Linked DNA regions of Homo sapiens: all the other regions are linked to region 5. Evidence: fine-mapped expression QTL. A gene starts in region 5. Each other region holds a variant in brackets. All regions are shown on one strand. Distances are between the middles of the regions.

What was found. PIP is the estimated chance that this variant, and not a neighbour inherited with it, causes the effect.
Region 1: its variant is fine-mapped to the expression of CDKL1 in whole blood (TOPMed, PIP above 0.99).
Region 2: its variant is fine-mapped to the expression of CDKL1 in whole blood (TOPMed, PIP 0.92).
Region 3: its variant is fine-mapped to the expression of CDKL1 in whole blood (TOPMed, PIP above 0.99).
Region 4: its variant is fine-mapped to the expression of CDKL1 in cerebellar hemisphere (GTEx, PIP 0.96).
Region 6: its variant is fine-mapped to the expression of CDKL1 in blood mononuclear cells (TOPMed, PIP 0.94).

The regions. Positions count from the first base shown.
Region 1 is chr14:50,223,135-50,228,210 of GRCh38, reverse strand. The region is part of intron 1 of SOS2 (SOS Ras/Rho guanine nucleotide exchange factor 2); the gene reads left to right. Among named protein-coding and RNA genes, the nearest start is that of SOS2, 5.9 kb to the left of the region's middle. RefSeq lists an enhancer at 1,877-2,403. The variant T/C (reference allele first, on the strand shown) is at 2,573.
Region 2 is chr14:50,345,346-50,350,421 of GRCh38, reverse strand. The region is part of intron 3 of CDKL1 (cyclin dependent kinase like 1); the gene reads left to right. Among named protein-coding and RNA genes, the nearest start is that of DMAC2L, 36 kb to the right of the region's middle. RefSeq lists an enhancer at 2,617-2,911. The variant G/A (reference allele first, on the strand shown) is at 2,610.
Region 3 is chr14:50,332,364-50,337,439 of GRCh38, reverse strand. It overlaps CDKL1 (cyclin dependent kinase like 1), which reads left to right. Exons shown (of 10, transcript NM_004196.7): 8 at 2,819-2,875; 9 at 5,008-5,076. Among named protein-coding and RNA genes, the nearest start is that of DMAC2L, 23 kb to the right of the region's middle. RefSeq lists an enhancer at 1,276-1,897. The variant T/C (reference allele first, on the strand shown) is at 3,179.
Region 4 is chr14:50,150,969-50,156,044 of GRCh38, reverse strand. SOS2 (SOS Ras/Rho guanine nucleotide exchange factor 2) reads left to right here. Exons shown (of 23, transcript NM_006939.4): 13 at 2,872-2,975. Among named protein-coding and RNA genes, the nearest start is that of VCPKMT, 37 kb to the right of the region's middle. The variant G/A (reference allele first, on the strand shown) is at 2,370.
Region 5 is chr14:50,394,836-50,399,911 of GRCh38, reverse strand. It overlaps CDKL1 (cyclin dependent kinase like 1), which reads left to right and starts at 3,031. Exons shown (of 10, transcript NM_004196.7): 1 at 3,031-3,088; 2 at 3,583-4,211. The coding sequence starts at 4,044. RefSeq lists silencers at 2,713-2,938, 2,878-3,327 and an enhancer at 2,620-3,119.
Region 6 is chr14:50,187,864-50,192,939 of GRCh38, reverse strand. It overlaps SOS2 (SOS Ras/Rho guanine nucleotide exchange factor 2), which reads left to right. Exons shown (of 23, transcript NM_006939.4): 5 at 4,240-4,443. Among named protein-coding and RNA genes, the nearest start is that of SOS2, 41 kb to the left of the region's middle. The variant G/A (reference allele first, on the strand shown) is at 2,899.

The DNA.
Region 1 (5,076 bases), 170 kb after region 5:
AATTAGCTGGGTGTGGTGGTGTGTGCCTGTAATCCCAGCTGCTCAGGAGGCTGAGGCAGGAGAATCACTTGAACCTGCTAGGCAGAGGTTGCAGTGAGCCGAGATCACACCACTGCACTCCATCCTGGGCGACAGAGCGAGACTCCATCTCAAAAAAAAAAAAAAAATTACTTGCATCTCTATCTGCTGAAAAGCTGTAACTTAATCTTATAGATGTGTAAAATAGTCAGTAGAAATTAATAAAAGATTCAAGCATAGCACTGTACTGAAACACAGCCAGTATTCTTTTGCTTATTTTCCAGTTTTGGCTAGTTTTTATGAAAACTGGATATCTATGTCTATATCCATGTATATATCCATATATACCCATATATAGATCCATATATATATGTATTTGACAAAGTCACCATTGTCAACATTGAAAATTCAAGGGATTTTTAAAAAACCAATCTCAAGTATTCATTGCATTACATAGAAACACAGAGATGGGCTGGGCGCAGTGGCTCATGCCTGTAATCCCATTTGGGAGGCCAAGGCGGGCAGATTACCTGAGGTCAGGAGATCGAGACCATGCTGGCTAACACGGTGAAACCCCATCTCTACTAAAAATACAGAAAAAAACCCAAAAAATTAGCCGGGCGTGGTGGCGGACGCCTGTAGTCCCAGCTACTCGGGAGGCTGAGGCAGGAGAATGGTATGAACCCAGAAGGTGGAGCTTGCAGTTGAGCCGAGATCGCGCCACTGCACTCCAGCATGGGCGATGGAGTAAGACTCTGTCTCAAAAAAAAAAAATACCAAAATTAGCCAAGTGTGGTGGTGCATGCCTGTGATCCCAGCTACTCGGGAGGCTGAGGCAGAGAATCTCTTGAACATGGGAGGCAGAGGTTAGAGTGGGCTGAGATCGCACCACTGCACTCCAGCCTGGGCGACAGAGCGAGACTCTGTCTCAAAAAAAAAAAAAAAGAAAGAAAGAAAGAAAAAGAAACACAGAGATAGACAAATAGGTTTATGGAAAAATAATTTTGGGAATAGAAATGTGGTGTTCTTTAGCTTTTTGCTTGTTCTTAAACTTTTAAAATAGAACCTCACCTAGATCATTTAAAAACAGAGAGCTACAAAGCAGAGTGAAATGACACTACTAATGGATAATGCATGGATTGTTAACATTACTGCTAAATTATGTATCTTCCCTAAAAGAGCCTAGAACATAATTGCCTTCACCACTGCTCCCCAAGATCATTGAAGCTATTGTGTTACTTGGGGAAAAAAGAGCATGGTGTATATTTGTAAATGCAGTTTATTACCTGTGTCGTTGAAATCCCTTGGTACTATATGCATGTGTTATTTGATTATATGTTGAGATAAATCAGCATTCTTCATATGGGAAATATGCCTCAAAATCATTTTATCAGATTTTACAGTCCCTGATATTTATTTTGTAGATGTCTTTTCTGTAAGGTGTTTTTCACCAGGCTAGCCATAGAAAAGAACATGGCTGTTTTCTTGCCAGCTGTAGTTAAAAATGTCAGAGAAAGCTAGAAAGAATTGGTTGAATTACTTTGTTCCTGAGTCCAATTAGATTCAGGTTAAATATCGACCTCCCCACCCTGTGACAATTTGCTCTTAGATATCTAAAAGGCAAGAGGTGTGAGAGAATGTCTGGGTTAATTAATAGCAGTCTACGGCAAGGAAAAAGATCGGTAGGGGCTTTGATTTAAAAATGGTTTTGTGAAGTTCTACTGAGATCCTAGTGTTTCTGCGTTTGTACAAATGTCTCTTGGAAGTTTGTTTTAGAAGATGGCACTGGATCTTTCCTGAGGCCCACAAGAAAAGTACAGGGTGATCTGAGAAAATATAACTGGTGTCATTGATATATGAGAGTCAAAGAAGACTTTAAGCAAGCAACATTTGTGCTTCTTTCTGGATTATATATTCAAATATAGTAATATTACTGTCTCCAGGCTGGTCTTGAACTCCTGGGCTCAAGCGATCCTCCCACCTTGGCCTCCAAAAATGCTGGGATTACAGGTGTAAGCTACGTCGCCTGGCTGCAGACACTGTTCTTGATACGGAAGATGTAGCAGAGCCCCTGCTGTTATAAAGCTTGTGTTCTAAGTGGCTGTGGCAGAGAGACAGACAATAAGGAAGTAAACAATTATCTGAAAGATCAGTAGAATTAACAAGAAAAAAAAAGGGCGGGGGGGAAGGATTTGAGGCTGAGGGGAAAGTAAGAACATGATTTGTTTGTTTGTTTGTTTTGAATAGGTCTCAGATTCTGAATTTAATGACTTATTTTAAAAAACAAGAAGAATAAGTGGATGAAGCTAGTATGGTAGACTGTAGGTACACTGAGTTAAGGTCTCTGCCTGAGAATAGGAAGTCCTGTTGGGTTCTCATTTACATAGCAAAGTAATTAGATTAACTTGATCAGAATTGCTTTTTGAAAAGATTACTTCAAGTCAAAGCCAAAAACTAATAAGAGATCCTGTGATTTTTGTGACATGAGCCTGTTCTGGAATTCCTAAAGCCGCTGAATGTAACAGTAGAACTCGAGGGAGTCATTTGGAATTAT[T/C]CCAAACTAATAATGACCCAAACTGACCCGAAGAGTTCAGCCAGAACTAGATGAGCGGTAGGAATGTACTTTAACTTGCTGTACTTGGCTCCCTGTCAGCAATGATTAAGTAGCCTTCTATTTTTGGTTTAATTTTGGTATGGTATATTTGGAGCAATAATATTCCATTAAAGTGTTTTATGCTGAGTATTCAAAGCATTACCTGTGTTACCCCTTGACATAAATCAACTATATGTCTTTTGTATTAACCATGGACTCTCTTTCAAGGGAACAGTAATTTGATTATATCCTGCATATTTGAATCAAAAGGAATTTTAATGTAACTAGTGGATTTAGCATTATCTCATGTTAAAAATTAACAACCAAAAATTATTTTCTTCCATGGGCCAGGTGCAGTAGCTCATGCCTGTAATCCTAGTACTTTGGGAGGCTGAGATGGGAGGATTGCTTGAGGCCAGGAGTTCAAGACCAACCTGGCCAACATAGCGAGACCCCATGTCCATAAAAAATTATTTTCTTCTTTTACATAAGAATATATGCTAGTACAAAGTTTTTTCAAATGGATAAAGTATTACACATTCACATTTTAACATGTAGAAGTGAAGCAACAAGATGAAAATAATACCAAGATCTAGATATAAGGACTAGTATTAGCTCTTCTAAGTAAAGTTTTCTGTACTCCAGTTTTCTTCCTCATTAGGTCATTTTGTAAACTCAAACACTATTTCTCTCTCTCTCTCTTTTTTTTTTTTTTTGACAGGGTTTTGCTCTGCTACGCAGGCTGGAGTACAGTGGCATGATCATAGCTCACTGCAGCCTCCAACTCCTGGGCTCAAATGATCCTCCCACTATAGCCTCCTGAGTAGCTGGGACTACAGGCATGTGCCACTACACCCAGCTAATTTTCTTATTTTTTTTGTGGAGACAAGGTCTTGCTATGTCCTCTGGCTGGTCTCAAATTCCTGGACTCAAGTGATCCTCCAGCCTTGGCCTCCCAAAGTTCTGGGATTACAGGAGTGAGCCACCTGCCTGCCAAAAACTACTTCTTACATACAAAGTATATTATAGTTCTTTCTTAACTGACCTATTAGCAGCATTTGACAGTTGATCTCTTCTTTTTTTGAAATCCTTTCTTCATTTGGCTTCCAGAAGAATATCAAGCTTTCAGGGATTTTTTTTCTCTGAATATTCCTTCTAGTTTCCCTTCCCTTGATTCCTCCTCATCTTTCTGTGACCACATCCTTCTGACCTCCCCAGAGCCCATTTATATATATGTGTGTGTGTGTGTGTGTGTGTGTGTGTGTGTGTGTGTGTGTGTGTGTGTATATATATATTTTTTTTTTTTCCTGAGACGGAGTCTTGCTCTGTCACCCAGGCTGGAGTGCAGTGGTGCGATCTTGGCTCACTGCAACCTCTGCCTCCCAGGCTCAACCAGTTCTCCTGTCTCAGCCTCCCGAGTAGCTGGGATTACAGGCGCGCACCACCACGTCTGGTTAATTTTTTTTTTTTTATATTTTTAGTAGAAATGGGGTTTCACCATGTTGGCCAGGCTGGCCTTGAACTCCTGACCTTGTGATCTGCCCGCCTCGGCCCCCCAAGTGTTGGGATTACAGGCGTGAGCCACTGCGCCTGGCCAATTTTTAGACTTCTATTTCTATTAACACATCCTCCTTTGGAGATGCCATCCTGCCTCATTGCTTCACGTATAATCTAAATCTGATAATTACCAAATTTACATTTCTGGCTCAGACCTCTTTCTTAAACATGAATGTTCAACTCTTTTTTTGAGACAGGGTCGCACTCTGTCACCCAGGATGGAGTGCAGTGGCAAGATCACAGCTCACTATAGCCTTAACCTCCTGGGCTCAATGATCCTCCCACCTCACCCCCCTGCCGCCCCCATATAGCTGGGACTACAGGTGTGTGCCACCACACCCAGCTAATTTTTTGTTTGTTTGTTTGTTTTAGATGGAGTCTCGCTTTTTTGCCAGGCTGGGGTGTAGTGGTGCAATCTTGGCTCACTGCAACCTCCACCTCTCAGGTTCAAGTGATTCTCCTGCCTCAGCCTCCCGAGTAGCTGGGACTACAGGCGTGTGCCACCACGCCCAGGTAATTTTTTTGTATTTTTAGTAGAGACGGGGTTTCACCATGTTGGCCAGGATGGTCTCAATCTGTTGACCTCGTCACCTGCCCGCCCCGGCCTCCCAAAGTACTGGGATTACAGGGATGAGCCACCACGCCCAGCCCCAATTTTTAAAAAACTTTTTGTAGAGACAGGGTCTTACTGTGTTGCATAAACTGGTCTCCAACTCCTGGGCCCAAGCATTCCTCCTGCCTCAGCCTCCAAAGTGTTTGAGTTACAGGCATGAAGCACCACACCCGGCCAACTTTTTACTTGATATTTCCACAGAGGCATCTCAACCAACACTGTATCCTTTTCTTCCCCTGCAAACTTGTTTCTTTTGTAGTGGTTAACATATCAATAAATGGCTACTCCATCCTTC
Region 2 (5,076 bases), 49 kb after region 5:
TTGCTTTTGAGCTAGAAGAGCTATTAAAGGGAGTAAAGAATGAGAAGGAATTGAGCCCCTTTTCTTCATACCTGTTCTAGCCCTTCCCCACTCTGCCCTAGAGCTCAGCCACAACCACTATTTACCACCAATGTGGAAACAAATATCTTAAGGTGGAATGAGTTCCCTAGCCTTGCTAGCACGGGCTACAATTTTAAGAACATCTTCCTTAGGCCAGGCATAGTGGCTCATGTCTATAATCCCAGTGTTTTGGGAGGCCAAGGCAGGAGAATCACTTGAACCCAGGAGTTCATGACCAGCCTGGGCAACACAGCAAGACCCCCATTTCTGCAAAAAAAGTATTGGCCAAGCACGGTGGCTCACACCTGTAATCCCAGCACTTTGGGAGGCCAAGGCAGGCAGATTACCTGAGGTCAGGCGTTCGAGCCCAGCCTGGCCAACCATGGCCAACGTGGCGAAACCCCATCTCTACTAAAAATACAAAAATTAGCTGGGTGTGGTGGTGTGTGCCTGTAATCCCAGCTACTTGGGCGGCTGAGGCAGGAGAATTGCTTGAACCCAGAAGGAGAAAGTTGCAGTGAGCCAAGATAGCACCACTGCACTCCAGCCTGGGTGACAGAGGGAGACAACGTCTCAAAAAAACAAAACAAAAAACAAACAACAACAACAACAACAACAAAAAGACAAGAGAGAAGAACAAAGAACATCAAAACATCTGCCTTAGCCTGAAGGGTCCAGCCAGTCACCCAGACTCTTCCAGAGCTGTTAAGTTTGTTGAATATATTCATATTTATTTAAGATTGCATGAGGCAGAGGGCATGGCGATGATACCCCTTACTGTGCATGGCTCTTGGGTCACACTGTCCTGTCAGGATGGGTTGCTTTTGCCACCTGGAGTGCAGTTATCCCGTCATCTCCCTCTGCCATCCTCCCAGAAACTCCTGCTGCTTCCCTCCTGCATTGGGTCTCCAGCCCACATAATCTTCTTTGATAATGGACTGCTCCTTTCTGGTGGACTGCATCCATGAGGGGCTTCCTGAGAAAGAGCAGATGAGAGGTACAGGAACAAATAAGAGGTTGAGACCTTGCCCTCACATGCTTTATTCTATCCTCACACTGGTTTGGTATTTTGTTTGGATATAGGCTTGTTTATTGGTTTTTGGTTGAAGATAATATTCCTTCAAATTTTTGAAGTCATTATTTTAGTGTCTTCTATCTTCTAGTGCCAAGAAGCCTGATGCCATTCTATTTTCTGCTCTCTTGTGAAGTCCTGTTTCTTTTTCCAGAAACTTGTAGGAGATTCTCTTTGTGCTCAGTGTTTTTGATTATGAAACTCATGAGTGTGTCTTGATTTTCATCCATTATCCTGGCACTTGCTGGGCCTTTTCTGCCTCAGAAAAAAATTTTTGAATTGTTTTGTTATTGACTTCCTGTTCATTGTTTTACCTATTTTCTTTTTCTGTACCCTCTATTATTGGGATGTGGACTCTTGAACTGGTCCTCCCATTTTCTTGTAGTATCCTGTTCTTATTTCATGGATACAACAGCTTTCCTGTTCTCTCTGAGGATATTAATGGTATTTAAAAATGTTCTCTTCATCCTCCATAATTTCTGTTTCTTTTAAGTTGCTTTTTTCTGTTTGTTCTGGTCTTCTACTTTCTTATTAGAGGCTTTTCTTGGGCATCATATAGTCTCTGGTTATATGCTCATAGTTAAGAACAAGGAACTACTGGAAGCTCTGAGCTTCACTATGGTTTTCTAGCTGGGCCATTTGCTGGTGGAACCCCAGTGTCAGAATCTTCAGAGCTTTCCCTCTGAGCTTCTCCCAAAAAAGTCTTTGAATATTGTGCCTGGAGAGTGAAGTCTGCCTGCCGGGTTTCCCAGAGTCTAGTGAGGGAAGAGGGGTGGGGAATCCCAGCATTCAGCATTTTGTATGTGTACAGTCCTTTAATCCCCTGTTTTCAGAACAGTATCCACATTTTCAGAACGGTATCCACAATCTCACGTATGCCAAATGTCCTCTGCTTTATCCTTTCCAGAAACAAAGCTCCAGCCTTCTGCCCAGTAGTGGAGAGTGTTTCCCTATGGGCAAATGATAGAGGAGGGGATCTAGGGATTTAATTATTTTCTAAACAGTTTTTTCCATACTCCTTAGCTCCTAGTTCCATAGAGACTTTGGCTGCTACTTCCCGAGCCTTTTGAGGATTCTTTCTGGATGAATTGGTTGGTTCTCCACCTTCCCTCTCCTGGCTTAGATTTTCGCTTTCTAGGATTGTTAAGTTAATTATCTTTCATTCAGTTGCTTTCTGGATTCCACATTGTGTTGCTGTTATCTCTTCTCCTGTCCTCTCTGACCTTGTGAGGTTTTGTCTTTAGAAGTCTTCAGCGTAGTTCTAGTCAGGTTTCAGGAGGGAACAAAATTAGCTGGGCTTGCTTAATCCATCATCTTAATTCAGAAGTCCTTTGACACACTTTCTTCAGTTGGTCCTGTGATACTGTATTCTCCTGAGTGTTGTCTTATTCACTTGATGCTCTCAACTCAGGTGCCCTTGTGGGGTCCCCTTCCTCTTTCTGCTCCTCTGTGGGGAAGGGTCTCACAGCTTCCTTCC[G/A]AGCTCCTCTTCTTTAGCTGGATTCACTCCTTAATTGGCTTCATTCAGTCCTAGGCCCCAAATACCACCCATATGCTATGCTTCTCAAACTCATATTTCCAGCCTGACCTTCCTTCTGAATGTAGAATTGCTGACTCACAGTCTTCCTTTGGGTGTCCAGTAAGCATTCCCTTCCCCCAAACCAGTTTCCCCTCCAGTGTTCTCCTGAGTAAAAGGCACCACTGTGTACCAGTTACTCAAGCTAAAAACCTGATGTCATTCCTTGATTCTTCTCTTTCTCCCACATCCAATCCCTCAGAAAATCCTGGAAGCTCTATTTTAAAAATATAGCCCAAATCTGGCCACTTCTCACCACTTAACCACTATTTTAGATGTTCCCTTAACCAGAGAACCTTTCTGGGCCATCCTATATAAGGTGATCAACCCCTTCTAGCACAGCACTCTCACGCTGTCTCTCTCTCTCTCTCTCTAAATCCAACACCACAGAATATATTCTATCTATTTTTCCCCTTTTTATAGTTGTAACTCCCTTCTCCAACAGTGAAAAACTGGCCCCTCTTATTATGAGTGTTTCAGCTAAAAGGGATCTCAGAGTCTGAGGCCTCTGCATTACAGAAAAGAAACTGAGTAAAGAAGTGAAGTGAGTAGCCAGTTCAAGATGGCACTAAGTAGTTTGTACAGAGTTTTTACATTTGAGAGTTTTGTAATTCTGGGGATTAGCTGTGCTGGGGATTAAAGGAGCAATAATGATATGCAACTATAATTTACTTTTATATGCTCCTTTTATATAATTTATTTGGGGAAATGTTTGTAGGAACTAAAGTTGCCTGGTACTGGTAACCCTATATTAATACTTAATTTGCAGGCCGGGCATGGTGGTTCACACCTGTAATCCCAGCACTTTGGGAGGCTGAGGTGGGCGTATCACTTGAGGTCTGGGGTTTGAGACCAGCCTGGTCAACATGGTGAAACTCTGTCTCTACTAAAAATACAAAAATTAGCTGAGTGTGGTGGCACACACCTGTAATCCCAGCTACTGGAGGCTGAGGCAGGAGAATCGCTTGAACCTGGGAGGCAGAGTTTGCAGTGAGCTGAGATTGTACCACTGCACTTTAGCCTGGGTGACAGAGCAAGACTCCATCTCAAAAAAAAAAAAAAAACCAAAAATTTAATTTATTGAATAATCAAAATATATTCCATTTTTCTGGACAAAATGTAGAGGCTACTGGGAAGGCTGAGGCAGGAGGATCCCTTAAGTCCAGGAGTCCAAAGTTCAGTGAGCTATGATAGCACCACTGCCTCCAGCCTGGGCAGCACAGCAAGACCCTGACCCTAAAAAAAAAAAATTAAAAGTGGAGGCTGGGGAAAAGCATTCCCCCTAATGTCTCATCTTAGTTGCATTTTTCTAAGCCTTTTTTCTCGACAGTGACTTTTTCTAGCATCTATGCCTATATGCCGCTCAAACAAGGAAAAGAGAATTTGGAGAGAAGCAACTTCAAACACAGGGACATAGACCTGGTCCAGCAATGTCCCAACTAGCCTTCCTGGAAGTGGCCTCTTCCTTTCCTTCATGTGATCCCACTCTCTGTTCAAACACCCCCTGATCTGCTTGAAAGGATTTCCTGAACGTCTGGCCTGTGACAACAGTGGCCTTGTAGCCTCTCTCAGAGGCTACAAGTGACTTTTTGTAGTCCCCTTAACACAGCTACTCAAGAGCTTCCTCCCTGATTTACTTATTCGTTTTGGCTGAGGACCACAGCAACACTGTGGAATGTTTATCAAAACAGTAAGTCCAGCCAGTGGGTTGGGGTCTCAGAAAATAAATGCACTCTCTCTGTGGTTCGTTTCTTACACTCCCTGCCTTGGTTTGTTGTTGTTTTAAATGTTTCCAGGCGAGATGCCTCTTTCTAATTCACACAAAGTACCTGCTGGAACTACTGGTTGCCCTGGTAATAAAAGATGTGAGTCAGGGAAGAAGTACTGGGAGCAGTGGCTTGAAGTTTAGCTGTGGTGATGGAGGAGAGAGTAGAAAGATGTACCTGGGCTGCAGCTGGCTGCCATGGCAGCATAGGGAAAGAACCAGGATGCCTCAGGTTTTTAAATTATTATTAACATTTAATAACAATTTACGATGGGGGAGCAAGAGAGACTGCATCAAGACCCTGGTAGGGCAGATCTGGGATGCTAAAAAACAAATAGAATGGTTTGCAATGTAAAGCTCTTTGCTATAATCAGTAAAGTCTTCATTATCTAAAAAACCAAACAAACAACAGCAATGCTGCTCTGAGAGACCACATGCCCACACATGGAAGATGAGTCCTGCTTCAAGGCTGTCTGTTTGGGGCAACTTGAGAAAATAAACAGCATCTTTTGTGCTGAATAGTAACTTAACTTTACATCAATAAAAAATTCCTTGTGAAAATGGAGCTTAAGTTACCAGGCAGTTTCCCAGTGGTGTCACAGATGT
Region 3 (5,076 bases), 62 kb after region 5:
TTTGAGGTTACAGTAAACTATGATCATGCCACTGCATTCCAACCTGGGTGACAGAGCAAAACTCTGTCTCTAAAAATAAGAAATACCATGTAGTTAAAAAAAAAAAAAAAAGACGGTTATAAAACAGTGTAGGCTGGGCATGGTGGCTCACGCCTGTAATCCCAGCACTTTGGGAGGCCGAGGCAGGTGGATCGCTTGAGCCCAGGAGTTCGAGACCAGCCTAGGCAACATGATGAAACCCTGTCTCTACTAAAAATACAAAAATTAGCCAGGCACGGTGGCACACACCTGTAGTCCCAGCTACTTGGGAGGCTGAGGTGGGAAGACGGCTTGACCTTGGGAGGTGGAGGTTGCAGTGAGCCGAGATCACGTCAGTACACTCCAGCCTGGGCAACAGGGCCAGATTCCGTCTCAAAACAAAAACAAAAACAAAACAAACAAAAAAACCAGTATGTATAATTTGACAAAGTTTTAATAAAAATGTAATATGCACACAATGCATATATACATATATTTACATATATAAATACAAAATAATGTGACAACATCTGGGAAATCACAAAGCTTTTTTTTTTTACATTTGTGAAATAAATGGCTGCAAGGATATATATCAAAATACTAAGAGTGGATATCTCTTTTGGGTGGGATTTTGGGGTAACTTTATGATTTTTTATATTTTTGAATGTCTTCTAATGAGCCTGTATTGTAATCAAAAACATTTCAGAGCATAATTAAGGTCTGTGAAATCTTGAGTTTCTACTGAGGAAGGTATCTTAAAAATGAAACTAACCCTCCAGTTTCTCACTAAACCCTTCAGTTTTCAGATGGAAGTTCTGTCTCTACCACTTGTGTTTTGTTTGTTCCCTAACCTCTTGGCTTGTCCCACAATGAAGGTTTCTGCTTCTCCACTGCCTCTTCCTCCTGTAGCACTAGCATTCAAAGTGGGTCTTGCTGGGACGGAGGGGCAGGAATGACACCTGACATATGGGAGGTGACCCATCTGGCTTCCTTGTGATCTGGACATTCCCAGTTGTGCACTAAATATCCCTAGTGATTTCCTGTTCACTTGTCTGTTGGTGAAGCCTCAGAAATAACCCAGGTTTCATAAATGTAAGAAGCTTCCCATGGCTTCCCAGAGATTGTCCTGCAGATTTCCTGTTGACAGAAACACAGGAAGAGGCAGTGCGGGGGCTGCACTGGTTGAACATCTGTGCCCCAGTCCCTCTGCCTGTCAGTAACCCTGACAGAGGGAGGCCTGCTTGCTTCTGGGGCTGTGAAACGCTCACAGATGGGCTCCAGCGTATCACAGGCAACCAGTTGGCCTCATCCAGACATTGTTGCTGAGACAGCAGAGCTCGATGATATAGCAATGGCACGTCAAACCCCAGTGATGCTCAGATTCAACCGACAGAAAGAACAAGAGAAATATTTAAGCTATGGAGCATGAGTGGAAGTATGAGGGTGCAACAGGGGCTACTGTCAAGGGCTAATACAAACCTACTTTAGGATTTTTTTTTTCTCCTGTTGACATAGGGAACTCTGAAACAGAGGCTCTTCTCTCCTACTCTTATCAATGATTAGTATGTGTACAATCCAGAATTGGTTATTGGGAGCTGGTTGCCTGTCCAAAATAATACTGTACTGTGAAAGCTGGCCACAGCACCAGGACTGTTTGATTAGATGAGCCTGGCCAGTCACTCCAGTCGGCAGCTCACACACTGCCACTTTTATACACACAATGCACTGCAGTCACTTATTTTGCTCAGCTTGGCTGGCTCTTATTTTCTCAGCCTCTCTGCTCAATTAGCCTTTGTCAGTGGTATGTCTCTTTAACTGGCCTGTTTGTCTGCCTGACATTCGGCATTCCTCCCATTTATAGTGTTATTCCTGATTGTCTCCAGCACGTGACTGGCGCAAAATCGCCTTATACGGCCAAAAGGAGATTGACGAATGCCCCACAGGAGACTGTTTAAACAGCAGGCTGAGAAGGGAAGCAGCAGGCCCTAGTGGGAGGAGACAACAGTGTTTATTCCAGAAAATCAAGAAGCATCTGTTCACCTGGGTAGGGGAAAAACATCTATTTTGCAGCTCCCTTTATATAATTAGAATTAGAGCTGCCTTTTTTTTTTTTTTTTTTTTTTTTTGAGACAGGGTCTTGCTCTGTCGCCCATGCTGGAGTGCAGTGGCACATTTATGGCTTACTGCAGCCTCAATCTCCCAAACCCACGCCATCCTCCCGCCTTAGCCTCCCAAGTAGCTAGTACTAGAGGCGCACACCACCACCCCCAGCTAGTTTTTTGGTATTTTTTTTAGAGAGACAGACAGGGTTTCATCATGTTGCCCAGGCTGGTCTCAAATTCCTGGGCTCAAGCCATCAGACTTGGCCTGAGTGGATTATAGGCATGAGCCACCGCACCCAGCCAGCTACCTTTTTATAAATCACACTATAAATGCCAAAAATTATTCTCAGGAAAGGCAAGTTATATAACTTGAGCCCCCCCACCCCCTCAAAAAAAAAACTGCTCAGAAAAGTTTTTTTTCATTAGTATTTTTATTTATAATTTGCTATCTCCATTGGTATCAGAGCAGGAAGTTAAGGGAGTAGTTACGAAGCAAATTTGGAAAAGCGATTTGGAGGTGGGGAGAGAAAGCTTGTGAAAAAGGCAAAGGGAGACTGTTTTGGGCAGGAGGTTGGGTGGGCAAAGGGTGGAGGACGTGAGGAAGGTGCCAGGAAAATGTTTCTATCAAAAGATTTAATTTGAGGTAACCTTAATTTGAATACATGCTGTAAATTAAAAACCTCTTTTCTTTTCAACAGGAACCACTTGAATTAAAATTCCCAAACATCTCTTATCCTGCCCTGGGGCTCCTAAAGGTAAAAATCATGGCTTCCAACAGACCAGGAAGCACACAGCAGTTGTCATCACTGGGGAATCTGAATTACTTATGTCAATCCATGCAATGAAAAGTGTTCCTTTTAGAATTCTTCTCCTGGCTGGGCAGTGGCTCACACCTGTAATCCTAGCACTTTGGGAGGCCAAGGCAGGCAGATCACCTGAGGTCAGTTCAAAACCAGCCTGGTCAACATGGTGAAACCGTCTCTACTAAAAATAAAAAAAATTAGGCGTGGTGGCGCTCGCCTGTAATCCCGACTACTCAGGAGGGTGAGGCGGGAGAA[T/C]TGCTTGAGCCTGGGAGGCGGAGGTTGCAGTGAGTTGAGATTGCACGACTGCACTCCAGCTTGGGTGACAGAGTAAGACTCCGTCTCAAAAAAAAAAAAAATTCTCCTTGGAAAAGTATATTTTCAATTTTTTTAAATGGATCACATCCTATTAAGAAAACATTTGCAAGTATTTTCCACTTTAAATAAACCTAACATTATATTTGAAGTCTAAATTTACACAAAACAGAAATTTCAGGGGGGTGGTGATTGTTTTACAAAGGGAACTTTTTCTTCAGAAAATCCTTAGCTGCAGGATCCTTTTAAATAGCTAACTCCCTGGTACATTTGAAGTACATTTAAAAACTTGATATATATATTTATATATATATATATTTAGAAATATAGCTCTTATGTAAAATGAGGTATGGTATCAACTAAAATGTTTGCAAGTTACAGTCAATGTCCCACATGGTTTAAAAATTATTTATTTACTGATGTATTAAATAATGAGTTAATATAAATGATAATGTAACTGTTACCTGAAAGGGGTCCCAATCCGGACCCCAAAGGAAGGTTCTTGGACCTCATGCAAGAAAGAATTCAGGGCGTGTCCACACAGTAAAGTGGAAGCAAATTTATTAACAAAGTAAAGGAATAAAAGAATGGCTACTCTATAGGCAGCAGTGCTGTGGGCTGCTCAACTGAGTATACTTACAGTTATTTCTTGATTATATGCTAAACAAGGGGTGGTTTATGAGTTTTCCAGGAGAGGGCAGGGATTTTCTGGAACTGAGGGTTCCTCCCCTTTTTAGACTATTTAGGGTAACTTCTGGGCATTGCTATGGGTATTTGTAGACTGTCATGGTGCTGGTGAAAGTGTCTTTTAGCATGCTAACACATTATAATTAGTGTACAACGAGGAGTGAGGACAACCAGACATCACTTTCATCACCATCTTGGTTTTGGCCGGCTTCTTTACTGCATCCTGTTTTATCATCAGGTCATTGTGACCTATATTTTGTGCCGACCTGCTATCTCATCCTGTGAGTAACAATGCCAAACCTCCTGGGAATGCAGCCCAGTAGGTCTCAGCCTTATTTTACCCAGCCCCTATTCAAGATGGTGTTGCTGTGGTTTCAACACCTCTGACATAACCAACAAAAACTGAGTCAATTCCTTGGAGTATGTAGTTGTGAAATTTAATCTAATCTATCCAAGAATGAGCTCCATGGCCTACTTAGTTGCAACAAAAATAGTTAAGAATGATGTAATATAAAGGCATGTACGTTATGCCTCTCCTTATATACATGATCATATATACTTATAATGCATCAACTATTTCTGGAGGGATACACCAAAAAAAAAAAAAAAAAAAAGTAGCTGATTTTAGAAGGGTGAAGGGAACACCTACAGTGGTGGAGACTTTGCTGTATGCTGTATTAACTGTATTTGTTATCATGTGTAAATATCATTTTTAAAATAAAAACACTAGTTTTTACAAAGTACATGCAAGGGACCAAACTGGCTAAATGGATTACCCCATTTGGCCACTGAGGTAAACTCTAAAATTATATCTTACTCTCCCAGGGCAGAGTACCAATTGCTTCAAGAACAGAATAAGGTGGAGAAAATGATTTTTCATTACTACTTCTAGAAACTATTTATTTAATATGTGAGTGCCATTTAGGAATGACTGGAAGGAACTAAAATCATGACTGGTGTGTTTTCCTGCCTTTTCCCCCTTCTTATTGCAACTGAAGTTTCATCTTTCAAAGAAGAAAAAAATGACATTAATAAGTTAATACAATTTTGAAGAAGTAAGAAGAAGGAATTTTCTGTTCTTTTAGGGCTGTCTCCACATGGACCCTACTCAAAGGCTGACATGTGAACAGCTGTTGCATCACCCATATTTTGAA
Region 4 (5,076 bases), 240 kb after region 5:
TTTCCCAGGATAATTGCCACAAACAAATGCAGTTTTAGAAGAATGATAGTGCTCCCAGCTATATGTCTTTCACTAAAACTTTTAACGTCATTCTTTGTATAAGAAGATGAGATTATTTATGTATCAGCAATAAATAAGTAATTCTTTTCTACTAGCTGTGATGCATTTGTACTTATCTACAATCACATTAAATCCCTTGATATGACACATACATTTATGAGGTTGCTATTGGGTGGGGTAGGGGGTGGGAGTATAATCTTCGTTTCTCAGTCATATAAGCTCTTTATGTATTTCTAAGCATTTGCTGTGTTCTCAGTCCTGTACTTATAACTATGCTAAGTACAAAAATAACATAGACTGTCATGATATTGTGGCTTTCTTGGGGACTTTACTGGGGGAAAAAGACACATGAAACAGTTATATATTGTTCTACTTGGAGTGCTTAAGTGACTTAGAAAAATACATCCCTATACAATTTCAGGAATAGCAAAGATTAGGCCAGAGTAATTAGGGAAGGCATCTTGGAGAAGGTAAAATCTGAGACTGCCCCTAAAGGATGTATAGGCTTTAGATAGGTAGAAAGGTGACTGTAGGTATTCAGGGTCATGAGAAATAGTATGAACAAAGACAAGAAGGCAGAAATGAGAATGGTGTGCTGAGGACACAGATAAGGACATTGACCTGAGAGGAATGTAGGCATTGTATTGCAAGTAGTAGATGAGATTACCTGTATGGAATTGGATGGAGTGGAAAACTGTGAAATCCAAGCCAAGTTATTAAACCTGTTTATATAAATATTGAAAGATTTCTAGTAAAATGGGTGGTAGTAATTTTTCTAACATTTTATTATGAAAAATTTTAACATACAGCAAAACTGAGAATTTTACAATGAACACCCATAAACCCACCACCTAGATATGTATTCATCTATTCATATCTATTCATTTATGTGTTCATTTATCATTCATCTATCAGTTCATTTTTTTGTATGAATTTTGAAGTACACTCCTTAAATACTTCAACTTGTATGTCATTAACAGTTCAGTGTTTGTTTTTCTTTTGTTCTAAAATGTGCATATAATTAAATACATTTTTTTCTTGCTGCCACTGAAGACAGAAGATACACACATCTTAAGTGTACTTTTGTTGAGTTTTAACAAATACATGTATCTCCATAATCCAAACGCCTTTCAAGATATCAAATGTTACTACACCCCAGAAAGTTCCCTTATGTTCCTTCTCATCAGTTTTTGTTCCCACTGCCCAAAGGCAGTGTTCCAATTTCTCCCTCCATAGATTAGTTTTACCTGTTTTAGAGTCTTAATAAATGCATTCTTAAAAACTCAATTTTGTGTCTTCTTTCACTCAACATGCTTTTGAATTTGTATCAATGGCTTATTTTATTGCGAGGTTGTGTTTTATTATATGAATATACCAGTTTATTCATTTTTCCCATTGAAAGATACATGGGCTTTTTCTCGTTTTTTATTATTATGAATAAAGCCGCTATGAACTTTATCTTACCTGTCTTACTGTGAATATTTTTCACTTTTCTTGGGTAAACAACTCAGAGTGGAGTGGCTGGGTCAGAAGGTATGTGTATGTTTAGTTTTGAAAGAAACTGCCAAAACTTCCAAAACATTCTCACCAACAATGTTCAAGTTGCTTCATATTCTCACCAGTGTTTAGTAATGTCAGTCTTTGTGCCTTAGCCATACTGCTGGATGTAGTGGTATTTCATTCATACTTATTTTGTGGAGAATCTGTTCAAATCCTCTAATTTTTGTTGAGATACTTGTCTCTTTATTACTGAGTTGTAGGAGTAAATTGGGTAGGACTGAATGCCAGTCCTTTGTCAGATAAACATTTTGCAAATATTTTCTTTCCATGGCTTGCCTACTAGTTTCCTTCCTTCCCTTTCCTTTTCCCTTCTTCCTCTTCCATTTCCCTCCTCTTCCCTCTCCCCTTGTCTTTCCTTTCCTTTCCATTTGCATAGTTGATTAAATCTCTCTTTGCAAGGTTATAGGTAATCATTTTTGTGATACTGTAAAACAAAACAGTTCTATTTTTGTCTTTTGAAATGAAATAAGAGACTGTAGTATATGTGTAGATTACATAGAAATTTGATGATAGGCTGGGTGCAGTGGCTCACGCCTATAATCCCAGCACTTTGGGAGGCTGAGGTGGGCGGATCACCTGAGATCAGGAGTTCGAGACCAGCCTGGCCAACATGGTAAAACGTCGTCTCTACTAAAAGTACAAAAATTAGCCCAGCATGGTGGCGGGCGTCTATAATCCCAGCTACTTGGGAGGCTGAAGTAGGAGAGTCACTTGAACCTGGGAGTTGGAGGTTGTAGTGAGCTGAGATC[G/A]CACCATTGCACTCCAGCCTGGGCAACAAGAGCAAAATTCCATCTCAAAAAAAAGAAAGAAATTTGATGATAGCACTTGCATTTAGAACCAGATACAGTACATCTTAGTTGGTTTTCCATTTTAAGTGAAAAAGTACCAAAATTTAAATCTTAAAAATGCTTTTTATGAACTTAAAATAGCTTTTGTAATATAGAGCATAAGTTTTCTACATATGAATAAAGGGTACTTTTCCTTAACATAAATGGGAAGCACAGAAACCACTATTTTTATGCTTATAAATATTTTAAAAGTATACATTTTATTAATAAATAATACACCGTTTGGAGACCTACTCTCCTCTTGTCATTGAAGCATTTAAAGTATTAATTAAATACAGATTAGAGAGTCTTTGAGTATTATGTTGACCCTTGTATGTAAAGCTATTATCGTGGCATTAGAGAAGGAAGAAGTGTAATTGAACACTTATGTTTCACTAAAATGTGTTTCTTTCCATTTTATCAGGATCTTAAATGTATTTCGGCATTGGGTTGAACATCATTTTTATGACTTTGAAAGAGACTTGGAATTGCTTGAAAGACTAGAATCCTTCATTTCAAGTGTAAGAGGTATATTATATAAAGGTTTGATTGAATCTTATATTGAACATGAGTTTATGTTCAAATTTGTGTGACTTTAAGAAACTAAAACATTTCTCTCTCTTTTTTTTTTTTGAAACAGAGCTTTGCTTTGTTGTCCAGGCTGGAGTGCAGTGGTGCCATCTCAGCTCACTGCAACCTCCGCCTCCCAGGTTCAAGTGATTCTTCTGCCTCAGCCTCCCAAGTAGCTGGGACTACAGGCACATGACATCACGCCTGGCTAATTTTTGTATTTTTAGTAGAGATGGTATTTCACCACATTCACCACAAGACCAGCCTGGTGTCTTGAACTCCTGACCTCAGATGATCCACCTGCCTCAGCTTCCCAAAGTGCTGGGATTACAGGCATGAGCCACCATGCCTGGCCAGCATTTTTCATTTTTAAAAAGCTGAAATAACATTTGGAATGTTTTTTATAGACAGCAAGAAACTCACATATGTTTAGACCAATCATCTGAGGTCTCAGAACTTTGCCTTTTCAAGTTTTTGAGGAGAATATTTCTTTTAAAGAAGTCGAAAGTTCTTTTTAATAAATTTAAGCTATTTAATTTTATCTCATTGCAAGGTTGCCATTTCTTCAACTGAATAAAAATATGTGTAATTTTATGTTTTCTTTCTTTAATCTTATTCTTTTAATGATTAACAGCTTTCTTATAATATTTACATCTTCTGGAAATGTTTTTGGTATATTTCTGAAATCTGAAAGAGAGGAGTTTTCTATTTTAAGTTTCAGAATCATAGCCCAAGAAATGAAACCCTAGGCCATGAACATTTAAACAAATGTGTCATCAAATGTATATTATTGAATCAAGAACATTTATGTTTTATCTGACATTATAGGGCATTACAAATACTATAACAAGTGTAACTTATTTCGTGTTCTACTTGTTCTTTAAGGGGAATATTATTTAAAGTTAAGAATGTTATTCCTTTGTTTCTACTTTGAGATGTTTATGATACATTTTTATGTGTGCCTTGAAATTGTCATAATACTACATTTTCAAGTTGTATTCTAGGCCAGTGCAATGGCTCACACCTAGAATATCCCAGCACTTTGGGAGGCAGAGGCGGGCTGATTGCTTGAGCCCAGAAGTTTGAGACCAGTCTGGGCAAAATGGCAAAACCCAGTCTCTACAAAAAATATGAAAATTAGCCAAGCATGGTGGCATGTGCCTGTAGTCCCAGCTACTCGGGAGGCTGAGGTGAAGCGATCACTTTTAAGCCCAGAGCTCGAGGCTGCAGTGACCCGAAATTGCAACACTGCACACAAGCCTGGGCAGAGTGAGACCCTGTCTCAAAATAAACAAAAAACAAAAATTTATATTCTAAATGAGAATACTGGATTAGACACAATCTAAGAAGCTTCTAAAATACACACACACATTAGAATAAATTAAGTAAATGGTTATGTTAATGTCCAAAGTTCTTTTCTATACTAGTTATACTTCAGAATAACCAAATAGTTCATGAGGAAAAGTTTATTTTTGTGGAAGTATTTCAGCTAGTAAGTGAAGAAGGAATGGTAGAATATCACATTTCTCAGGTCCTAGTAAAATAATAAACCTAGGGAATTATCATGACTGGATGGGTACTATCACAAAAAGTTAACTAGACATTATATGCCTCCTGTTAGAAGTATTCTTGGCAAGTATTTGTGTCATAAAATTAATCCTGAATCAGACCAAGTCACTATATCTCTGCTTTACAGAAAATATAGAGGACAGAAAAACATGGCAAATGACAATTTCTTCCACAAAGTGCAAGCAAAAATATGCAATAAAGCAGTAACCTGTAGATTAAAGGAGACTTGAGACACATTGACTCAGTGCAATATGTGCAATCTTGTTCAGATCCCTTTTCAAACTAAATATAAGAAAATATGGCCAGGCACAGTGGCTCATGCCTGTAATCCCAACACTTTGGGAGGCCAAGGCAGGCAGATCACTTGAGCCCAGGAGTTCAAGACCAGCTTGGGCAACATGGATAAACCCTATTTCTACTAAAAATACAAAAATTAGGCCAGGCGCGGTGGCTCACGCCTGTAATCCCAGCACTTTGAGAGGCCAAGGCA
Region 5 (5,076 bases):
TACTTGGGCATAAATAACCAGTACACTGGCTCCTACTTTAACTACCACTAGGCCTGGCACAGTTCCAGGCTCTTTGGGTACTGACGTTGTGGAGTCCATAAAGTTAATTTTCCAGACAAACTTGATTTAACCTGGTATGAACTTCAGACGATGCAGCTCTGGGGAAATTCACACTGACTTTCTCACTTCATTTCAAAATATTTTTTTTAATTGTCAAAAAGAAACATTCATGAACATAGACCATATTCTTTCTGGGTCATAAAACAAAATAAAACATTTCAAAGAATTTAAGTCATATAAACTGAGTTCTCTGAAAATAATGGAATTAAACTAGAAATCAATAACAGATATCTTTAAAAATCACCAAATAGTTGGAAATTAACACACTACAAAAATAACCCATGAGTCAAAAAGGAAGTCACAAGGAAAATATTTTTGGGCCAGGCATGGTGGCTCACATCTATAATCCCAGCACTTTGGGAGCCAATGCGGGAGCATCATTTGAGGTCAGGAGTTCAAGACCAGCCTGGCCAACATGATGAAACCCTGTCTGTACTAAAAATACAAAAATTAGCTGGGCATGATGGTGCATGCCTGTAGTTCCAGCTACTTGGGAGGCTGAGGTGGGAGAATCGCTTGAACCTGGGAGGCGGAGGTTGCAGTGAGCCGAGATCACACTATTGCACTCTAGCCTGGGTGACAGAGTGAGACTCCATCTCAAAAAAAAAAAAAAAAAAAAAAATATTTTGAACTGAATGAAAATGATGATACAACATATTAAGATTTCTGTGATGTATTTAAAGTGGTGCTTACAGGAAAAATTATGGCATTAAATGCTTATATTAGAAGGCGGGGTGCAGTGGCTCATGCCTGTAATCCCAGCACTTTGGGAGGTTGAGGCAGGCAGATTATCTGAGCTCAGTAGTTGGAGACCAGCCTAGGCAATATGGTGAAACCCTGTCTCTACAAAAAACACAAAAATTAGCCAGGCGTGGTGGCACACCTACTTTGGAGGCTGAGGCAAGAGGATCGCCTGAGCCTGGGAGGCAGAGGTTGCAGTGAGCCAAGATCACACCACTGCACTCCAGCCTGGATGACAGAGCAAGACTGTCTCAAAAAAAAAAACAAAAAAAATTCTTCCAAACATTTAAGGAATTAATAATACCAATTTAATGTAAACATCTCTAGAAAATAAAAGGGAAGATAAACACTTCCCAACTCATTTTCTGAGATCAGCATTATCCTGATGCCAAAATTAGCAGATATTACAAGAAAACTATACATCAATATCTCTCAAAACATGAATGTAAAAATTTCCAATAAAATATTACTAATCAAATCCAGCAATACATTAAAATGATAAAATCATAAATAAGTTGGGTTTATCCCAGGAACAAAAGGTTGGTTCAACATCTAAAAATCAATATAATTCACCGTATCAACAGACTACATAAAAACAATTAGGTGGTGCACACCTATAATTCTAGCTACTCAGGCCTGGCAGAAGTGGGAGGATTGCTTAGGCCCAGGAGTTCAAGGGTACAGTGAGCAGTGATAACACTACTGCACTCCAGCCTGGGTGACAGAGCGAGACTCCCTCTCAATTAAAAAAAAAAAAGAAAAGAAAGGAAAAGGAAATGATCACCTCTAGATGAAGAAATGCATTTGATAAAATTCAACATCCATTCATAATTTTAAAAAGCAAACAAAAACACTAAGCAAACTAGGAATGAAAGTGAACTTTCTCAACCTCCTATTAATAAAAGGCTTCTGTGTTAGATACATATGGTTGCATAACAAATTACCCCAAAACATAATAGCAAACATATTTCAGTTTCTAGAGGTCAGGAACCCAAGTATGGCTTAGCTGGGTGCCCCTGGCTCAAGGTCTCTCACAAGATTGAACTTACATTGTCATCTGGGGCTACAATCTCATCTGAAAGCTCACTGGAGTTGGGGTGGTGGGGGAGATCCTCTATCCTCAAAAGGCTACATACGGTCTGATTCCATTTTCATGACATTCTGGAAAAGGCAAAACTATAGAGACAGAAAACAGATCAATGGTTGCCATTTGCAAACAATTTCTGTTCACAGACCACCTCTAGGCCATCCTTGTACTGGGTTTCCAGGGCAGCCACCAGCCCTCTCTCCTCAGCTCCAGGCTCCTTTCTGAACCCTTCCTGGGTTTACATTTAGTAGCATGCTGCTTGACACGGGATTGGCCCCTGTTTCATAGACACTGTGTTAATTTTCTCTCCTCGGGTACTGCTTCCAGGACAAGTACCCGCATTGATGCTGGCACTGGGAACGGGACGGATGATAAAGTGTGAGGCACTCTGCCCAGTGGCAACTGACATGATTTCATAATTTCCCCAGGTCCATCCGCTTCCCGCCAGTGTGCTCAGATTTGAGCAGTAGGAGTCCGTTGGGAGAAAGATGGGGGAAAGGAACCAAAAACAATTAAGGCAGACTCTGTAAGCTTCCACCTCCCACACCAGAAAAGTCCCACAGCAGAAGACTGCCGTGGAACCTTCCCTACTGTAGAGGAAAGTGCTGACTTTAAGCAATTTCTGCAGTCACGCCTTCCTCTTCTTTCCTTTCTCCCTCTCATTCATTCACTGACGCCGCAGCACTGATCAGCACAGACACAGAAGATGCCTCCAAGGGACCAAAGGGAATAACCGCGGTTCTGAGGTGTGGGGACTGCTGTTGCAGGGAAATGTGGACCGCTCAGGAGGGGCTCCTAGCGCAGGCGTCTTGCTCCGCAGACGCGGTTACAGCTGCGCTTTGCACGGCCTGCGGAAGTTTGCAAATCTAGCAGGTCTGCTCTCCCGGCAGCAGGACTCGGCCCGCGGTCAGGACAGCTCCCATGGACGGAGGGCGGCCCTCCGAGGCCTTTCCCTGCAGCCGGGAGGGCGGCCGGGCTGGGCCGGGCCGGGGGTGGGAAGCTGGGGCGCGGCGGCCCCGCCCAGGCAGACCCGGGGCGGGAGCCGGTTCCCATAGGGATCGCGGGCCGAGCCACGCCGAGCCGAGCTGGGCGGAAGAAGGCGAGGCGGGAGCCAGGCCCGTCCCTGACCGCCGCGGCGCCGTGAGTCCCGGGCGGGCAAGGAGGCGCGGGCCGTCCCTGGCCAACACGTGGCACCGCTCCATGCTGCGCGGCGCGGCTGAGGTGCACGTCCGGGCGCGGGAGGGTTTTCCCAGTCCCGGGGGCGTGGGGCGCGGGGCGCGGGTTGGTCTCCTGCGGCCAAGCCTCGCCGCCGCCTCCGCGGGGAGCCGGGAGGTGTCTTCTTGCCGCAGGGAAATGAGACCCGAAATTAGAACCGGGGAAGCCCTTAGCCCTCCCCGTACTCCAGCCAGCTCAGGTGTCTTAGATCGGATGAACGATAACGTTAAAAAGATAGCTTATCTTACAGCTCGGCTCGTTTTAGGATGGCAAGTTACATTTTAACTTACAGGGTATTTAACGGGCGATTAAAATCGGGTTACTGGAGGCAGCTAACTCTAGGCTGTTACTCCTGATCGCGTTGCCATTGCCGACACGGGTACACTCTTCATTCCTTAACATGTGCTGTTCTGTTCTAGGACCGTGACAAACACTCATCGTTGGGTGGGGCTCTAGTGCAGTCCGTTGGTGCCAATATTTTATAAGCGACGTTTTCAAACTATGTGAAGATCCTTTCTTTTCTTTTCTTTCTTTCTTTTTTTTTTTTTTTTTTTTTTTTTTTTGAGACGGAATCTCGCTCTGTCGCCCGGGCTGGAGTGCAGTGGCGCGATCTCGGCTCACTGCAACCTGCGCCTCCCAGGTTCACGCGATTCTCCTGCCTCAGTCTCCTGAGTTGCTGGGACTACGGGCGCCCATCACCACACCCGGCTAATTTTTTGTATCTTTAGTAGAGACGGAGTTTCAGTATGTTGGCCAGACTGGTCTCGAACTCCTGACCTCAGGTGATCTGCCCGCCTCAGCCTCCCAAAGTGCTGGGATTACAGGCGTGAGCCACCATTCTCGGCTGAAGATCCATTTTAAGAAGATTTATTCCTCTATGATGGAGAAGTATGAAAAAATTGGGAAAATTGGAGAAGGATCCTATGGAGTTGTTTTCAAATGTAGAAACAGGGACACGGGTCAGATTGTGGCCATCAAGAAGTTTCTGGAATCAGAAGATGACCCTGTCATAAAGAAAATTGCCCTTCGGGAAATCCGAATGCTCAAGGTAATTGATTCACTTTTCCTTTTTTTTCTTTTTCGAGACAGGGTTTCACTCTGTCTCCCAGGCTGGAGTGCAGCCATGTGATCATAGCTCACAGCAGCCTGGAACTCCTGGGCTCAAGCCATGCTTCTGCCTCAGCCTCCTGAGTAGCTGGGATTACAGGTTCTAGCCACTGCTCCGGGATCCACTTTTTCTTTAAAGTGAATTTTTAGGGATGAAAGAAATAAAGTGAGTCATGTTATGTTAAAAGAATGTCATGGGACATGGTTATATCTTACTTCATAGCCTTTTGACTTCAGTGACACAAATGGGATATCTGTGCACAAGTCACTAATTATATAATGAACTAGAAAGCAGAGACAAAAGTGCCAGGTAAGGTGGCATTCACTTTTAGAGATGCTGTGGGATATTTATTTTTCTTCCCCATAATTTCTCTCCCACCTGTAGACCTGGGTTTTCAAGGACCATTACAATTTGATAGTATAGGAATGTAAGACAATTCAATTTTGCTGGCATTGTTGATTTTTAAACTTCTAAGGTATTTCCTATTGGTATACTCAGTCTATTAAGAGAATTAACATTTACCTGTTTTCAAACTGCTAGGAAGCTCACAGATTCTCATTACACCTCATATGTATTTACTGCTGAGCATCATCATGTCCCGTTTCTAAAAAGAAGCGTTTTTCTTAAAGAAGTGAAATGATCACTTTCTAATTTTTTTTAACATTTTTTAGAGATGGGATCTTGCTATGTTGGCCAGGCTGGTCTCGAGTTCCTGGCCTTAAGTGATCCTTCCACCTTGGCCTCCTAAAGTGGTGGGATTACAGGCATGATCCATCGAGCCTGGCCTGATCACTTTTCAAATGTT
Region 6 (5,076 bases), 210 kb after region 5:
ATATACTAGCAGTTGAGTTCTGTATTTTCTTTCTTTTGTTTTTAACCTATTGAATTATACTTTTTTTTTTCCTTCTGAGACAGACTCTCACTCTCTCAACCAGGCTGGAGTATAATGGCGTGATCTTGGCTCACTGCAACCTCTGCCTCCTGGGTTCAATCCATTCTCCTGCCTCAGCCTTCTGAGTAGCTGGGATTACAGGCACTTGCCACCACGCCTGGCTAATTTTTGTATTTTTAGTAAAGACAGGGTTTTGCCGTGTTGGCCAGGCTGGTCTCGAACTCCTGACCTCAAGTGATCTGCCTGCCTTGGCCTCCCAAAGTGCTAGGATTACAGGCATGAGCTACTGCGCCTGGCCTTTGTTTTTGTTTTTGTTTTTTTTTAAAGACAAGGTCTTGCTCTTTCGCCCAGGCTGGAGTGTAGTGGCGCAATCTCTGCCCAGTGCAACCTCTGCCTCCCGTGTTCAAGCGATTCTCCCACATCAGCCTCCTGAGTAGCTGGGATTACAGGTGCGTGCTACCATGCCTGGCTAATTTTTTGTACTTTTAGTAGAGACAGGGTTTCGCCATGTTGGGCAGGCTGGTCTTGAACTCCTGACCTCAGGTGATCCATCCACCTTGGCCTCTAAAGTTCTGGGATTATAGGCGTGAGCCACCCATGCCTGGCCAGAAAAATCTGAAGCTAACAGGAGTGGGGTATGAATATATTTTCTCTTTCATGGTAGTATTACTCCATCTGTTTCAAGAGCTAGCTTGCTCGCTCCTTTTTTTTTTTTTTTTTTTTTTTTTTTTTTTTTGTGACAAGGACTCACCTAAGCCGGAGTACGGTGGTGTGAACACGGCTCACTGCAGCCTCAACCTCCAGAGCTCAAGTGATCCTCATGCCTTAGCTTCCTTTGTAGCTGGGACCACAGGCTTGAACCACCATGCCTGGCTGTGTTTAAAATTTTTTTGTAGAAACTGGGTCTCTCTTTGTTGCCCAGGCTGGTCTTGAACTCCTGGGCTCAAGCAATCCTCCCAGTTTCAGACTGGTGACCTTCTAGTGAATAGGGTCTCTAGGTTTGTTTTTTAAATTTTTGAATTATTTGCCATCCATTTATATTTACAGATCTAAAAATTTTACATAAAAATGTAAATCCCAGACTTTTCATGAAAAAAGAAAATCAGAATGCCTAACAGAAAACAGCTGGCACTGAGCAGCACACTTCCTCTTTAGGTGCATGTACCTTCCGGTTTACCATAATCCCCACTGTTTCTTATATATTATAATGTTACTTGCCTGACCCCTGTAGCATTTAAATTCAGGAACTTTGGTATTATGTGACCAAAAGAGTTTTAAGAATGGAACTCTGGAGTGGGTGGTAGAGAAGGTAAGTCATAGAGGAGGCCCCACTGACAGAATGGTGTATCAGAAGCCAAGAAGAGAAAAATTGTTTGGAGCTGGGGGGTTTATATGTGTTTTTTCTTATTTAGAGATAGGATCTCATTCTGTCACTCAGGCTAGAATGTGGTGGTACAATATTAGCTCACTGCAGCTTCGAATTCCTGGGCTCAAGTGATTCTCCCACCTCAGCCTTCAGAGTAGTTAGGACCGCAGGTGTCTACCAGCATACCTGGTTATTATTTTTTTTTACTTTTGGTAGAGATAGAATCTTGCTATATTGCCCAGGCTGGTCTTGAATGCCTGGCCTCAAGTGATCCTCCTGCCTCGGCCTCCCAAAGTGCTGAGATTGTAAGCATGAGCCACCATGCCTCGCCCTGAGAGTTTTAAGAGTTTTAAGAATGAGAGAATGGTCAGCTGTGTCAAAAACTAGAGAAAACAAGTAGGAAGACTAAAACACACCATTAGATTTGACACTAGATCAATAGTGAGAGCAGTTTTAATATAGTAATGGGCTTGCTAAGTGAATGGGAGCAAGAAGTTACAGCTAGCAAGTATGACCTACTCTAAAAGGGTCTCTGGTGGGGAAGAGAAGAGGGTGGTAGCTCTTCTGTGTGTTTTTATGTCTTATGTCTTCCTTTATTTTGCATGTCTGTTTGAAATCAGAGTTCATCACCAAATTCCCTGTGTAGCCTTACTGGTTTCTTTAAATTTAAAGTGGCTGGGAAGTGGGGATGATGGTCTCCAATGACAAGAAGGTGGATTGCATGGAGTAAGCAGTGGGGAAGGGAGGGATTTGAGAGTGTCACAGAACATGAGATTAGGAAGGTGGGTTGGAGTTAAATTATGAATGGCCTTTATCCTAAAGAAGTTAGGATTTTATGCAGAAGGCAATGAAATCCAGTATCATTTTTATGTATCATTTATTTTTAGTAACATGATTTTAGAACTGGGGTTGGGAAGACCTGTGGCAGGCAGATCAAATTATGAAACTTGTGTATCTTTTTAAGAGATGGTGATTGTTTAGTGGAGTAATCTAAAGCCTGCGGTAAGATGGAGAGAGCTGACCAGATTTAAAAGATGCTTATAAGATATTTCTGAGTTAGATTCAAAAAGATTAGGAAGGCAGAGTTCATGTTTACTTTATTAGCATATTTTACCAACATGTGGTACAGTTTATGGTGATCAGTAGATGTTTTTCAGAATGAATGAATGAATATCTGTTATTGTGTTGTCAGAATTTCCTCTCATCCCTTTGAAGTTTTTACTTTTTGTAGTTTCCTTTTCAGGGTATACCTTTATGCTGAACTCTCTGGGTACGTTTCGGTCAGTCTTAAATATATAATTAACTAGGTCCAATCATTTTTTTTAAAAAAAAGTATTATTAATTATAAAATGTATGGTCACAGCCAGGCGCAGTGGCTCACACCTGTAATCCCAGCACTTTGGGAGGCTGAGGCAGGTGGATCACTTGAAGTCAGAAGCTCGAGACCAGCCTGAATAACATGGTGAAACCCC[G/A]TCTCTATTAAAAATACAAAAAAAAATTAGCCAGGCATGGTGGCGTGCACCTGTAATCCCAGCTACTCAGGAGGCTGAGGCAGGAGAATCACTTGAACTTGGGAGGCGGAGGTTGCAGTGAGCTGAGATCATGCCACTGTACTCCAGCCTGGGTGAGAGAGCAAGACTGTGTCTCACAAAAAAAAAAAAAATAAAAAATAAAGTATAGTCAACTTTCTTTTTCACTTTGATTTATAGCTAGTTCTTGCCTGTTGGTTGACCTAAGTCCATGGTAGCATTTCTGAAAGAAGAAGTGGTTGCTACAACAATTTAAGCATCTGTGAGATGTTTGGGTTTAGCAAATGAACGTAATAGCAGTGGTCATTGTAGTAAATGTGCATCAGAAATGCATCGCACTGATCTATCGTGTGCCTCTACCATAGTAGCATTTCACTTTTCTCCTTTTAACCCTACTCAAATATGTACTGTCATCCTTATAATATGGCAAGGAACTACCATGTTGAATACCTACTATTTGCTAGATGTAGTAGTATGCATTTTATATACATTACCACATTGAATTCTTCTTATCAGCTACATTTTACTCATAAGGAATGTGACTTTCAAAAGAATAAATGTGTTCATAATCATAGTCGAGTAGTGGCTGAACTGGGATTTTTGGCTCGGGTTATTGTTCCCCAAAGACAGGCTTGCTTTTTTTTTTTTTTTTTGCTATTATGTGTGTGTGTGTGTGTGTATTACAGTATACATATATACATATACATATGTATTAGTACATATTTCACCATTAGTTCATATCTCCAGAAATATTTATTTTGCCATACTCGATTTTATTTGAATATTTCCCACCTTCAACAACTTTTTTTCCTTTTATTCTAGGTTTTATCATATAAATTTACTTATAATACACACAACTCATTGTGTAATATTTGTGTGTGCGTGTGTGTGTGTGTGTGTGTGTGTGTGTGTGTGTGTGTGTGATGGAGTCTCGCTCTGTCGCCCAGGCTGGAGTGCAGTGGTGTGATCATGACTCAACTGCAGCCTTGACCTCCCAGGCTCAAGCAATTCTCCTGCCTCAGCCTCCCAAATAGCTGGGATTACAAGCGCCTACCATGACGCCTGGCTAATTTTTTGTATTTTTGGTCGAGACAGGGTTTCACCATGTTGGCCAGGCTGGCCTTGAACTCCTGACCTCAAGTGATCCTCCTGCCTTGGCCTCCCAAAGTGCTGGGATTACAACACCCAGCCCTGTTTAATAACGTATAGATTTCAAGTACTTTGAGGCAGTTTTTATAAAAGTAAAGAAAATAAATTTATACATTATTGATTTCTGTTTCTCAGGTTTTGATGGACATGTTTGATCAGGATGACATAGGTTTGGTTTCTCTCTGTGAAGATGAACCTAGTTCTTCTGGTGAATTAAACTACTATGATCTTGTCAGAACTGAAATCGCAGAAGAAAGACAGTATCTACGGGAATTAAATATGATCATAAAAGTGTTTCGAGAAGCCTTTCTTTCTGATAGAAAGCTGTTTAAACCTTCTGTAAGTACCTTTTTGGGTTTGAAATTCTGTGTACCCCAAAAAACCAGACCAGCTTAAAATCATAAATAGTCACTTTTTTTTATTTTTTTGAGACGGAGTCTTGCTCTGTTGCCCAGGCTGGAGTGCAGTGGCGTGATCTCAGCTCGCACCACTGCAGCCTCCACCTCCCGGGTTCAAGCAATTCCTGCCTCAGCCTCCTGAGTAGCTGGGATTAGAGGCATGCACCACCACAATCGGCTAATTTTTTTATATTTTTAGTAGAGATGGGGTTTCTTCATATTGGCCAGGCTGGTCTCAAACTGCCGACCTCAAGTGATCCACCTGCCTTGGCCTCGCAAAGTGCTGGGATTATACGCATGATCCACTGCACCCAGCCCATAAATAGTAACTTTAAATACTTTATGAGTACATTAAAAATACTTTCATGTATTTGTGGGCTTTATAAACATGTGAATTGTTATATAATAGGTACAGTGACAATGAAAATTAGGCACAAAATTAGAAGGAGGTTTATACTGGGGTGAAATCATTTTCCGTTATGCAGTTCTGATATTTAGAGTCATTCATTTGGAGGTGGTGAAAAAGATGTATGGTCTAGGAAAGGAAGACCTCTGCATTTTTCTGTCTTTTGGT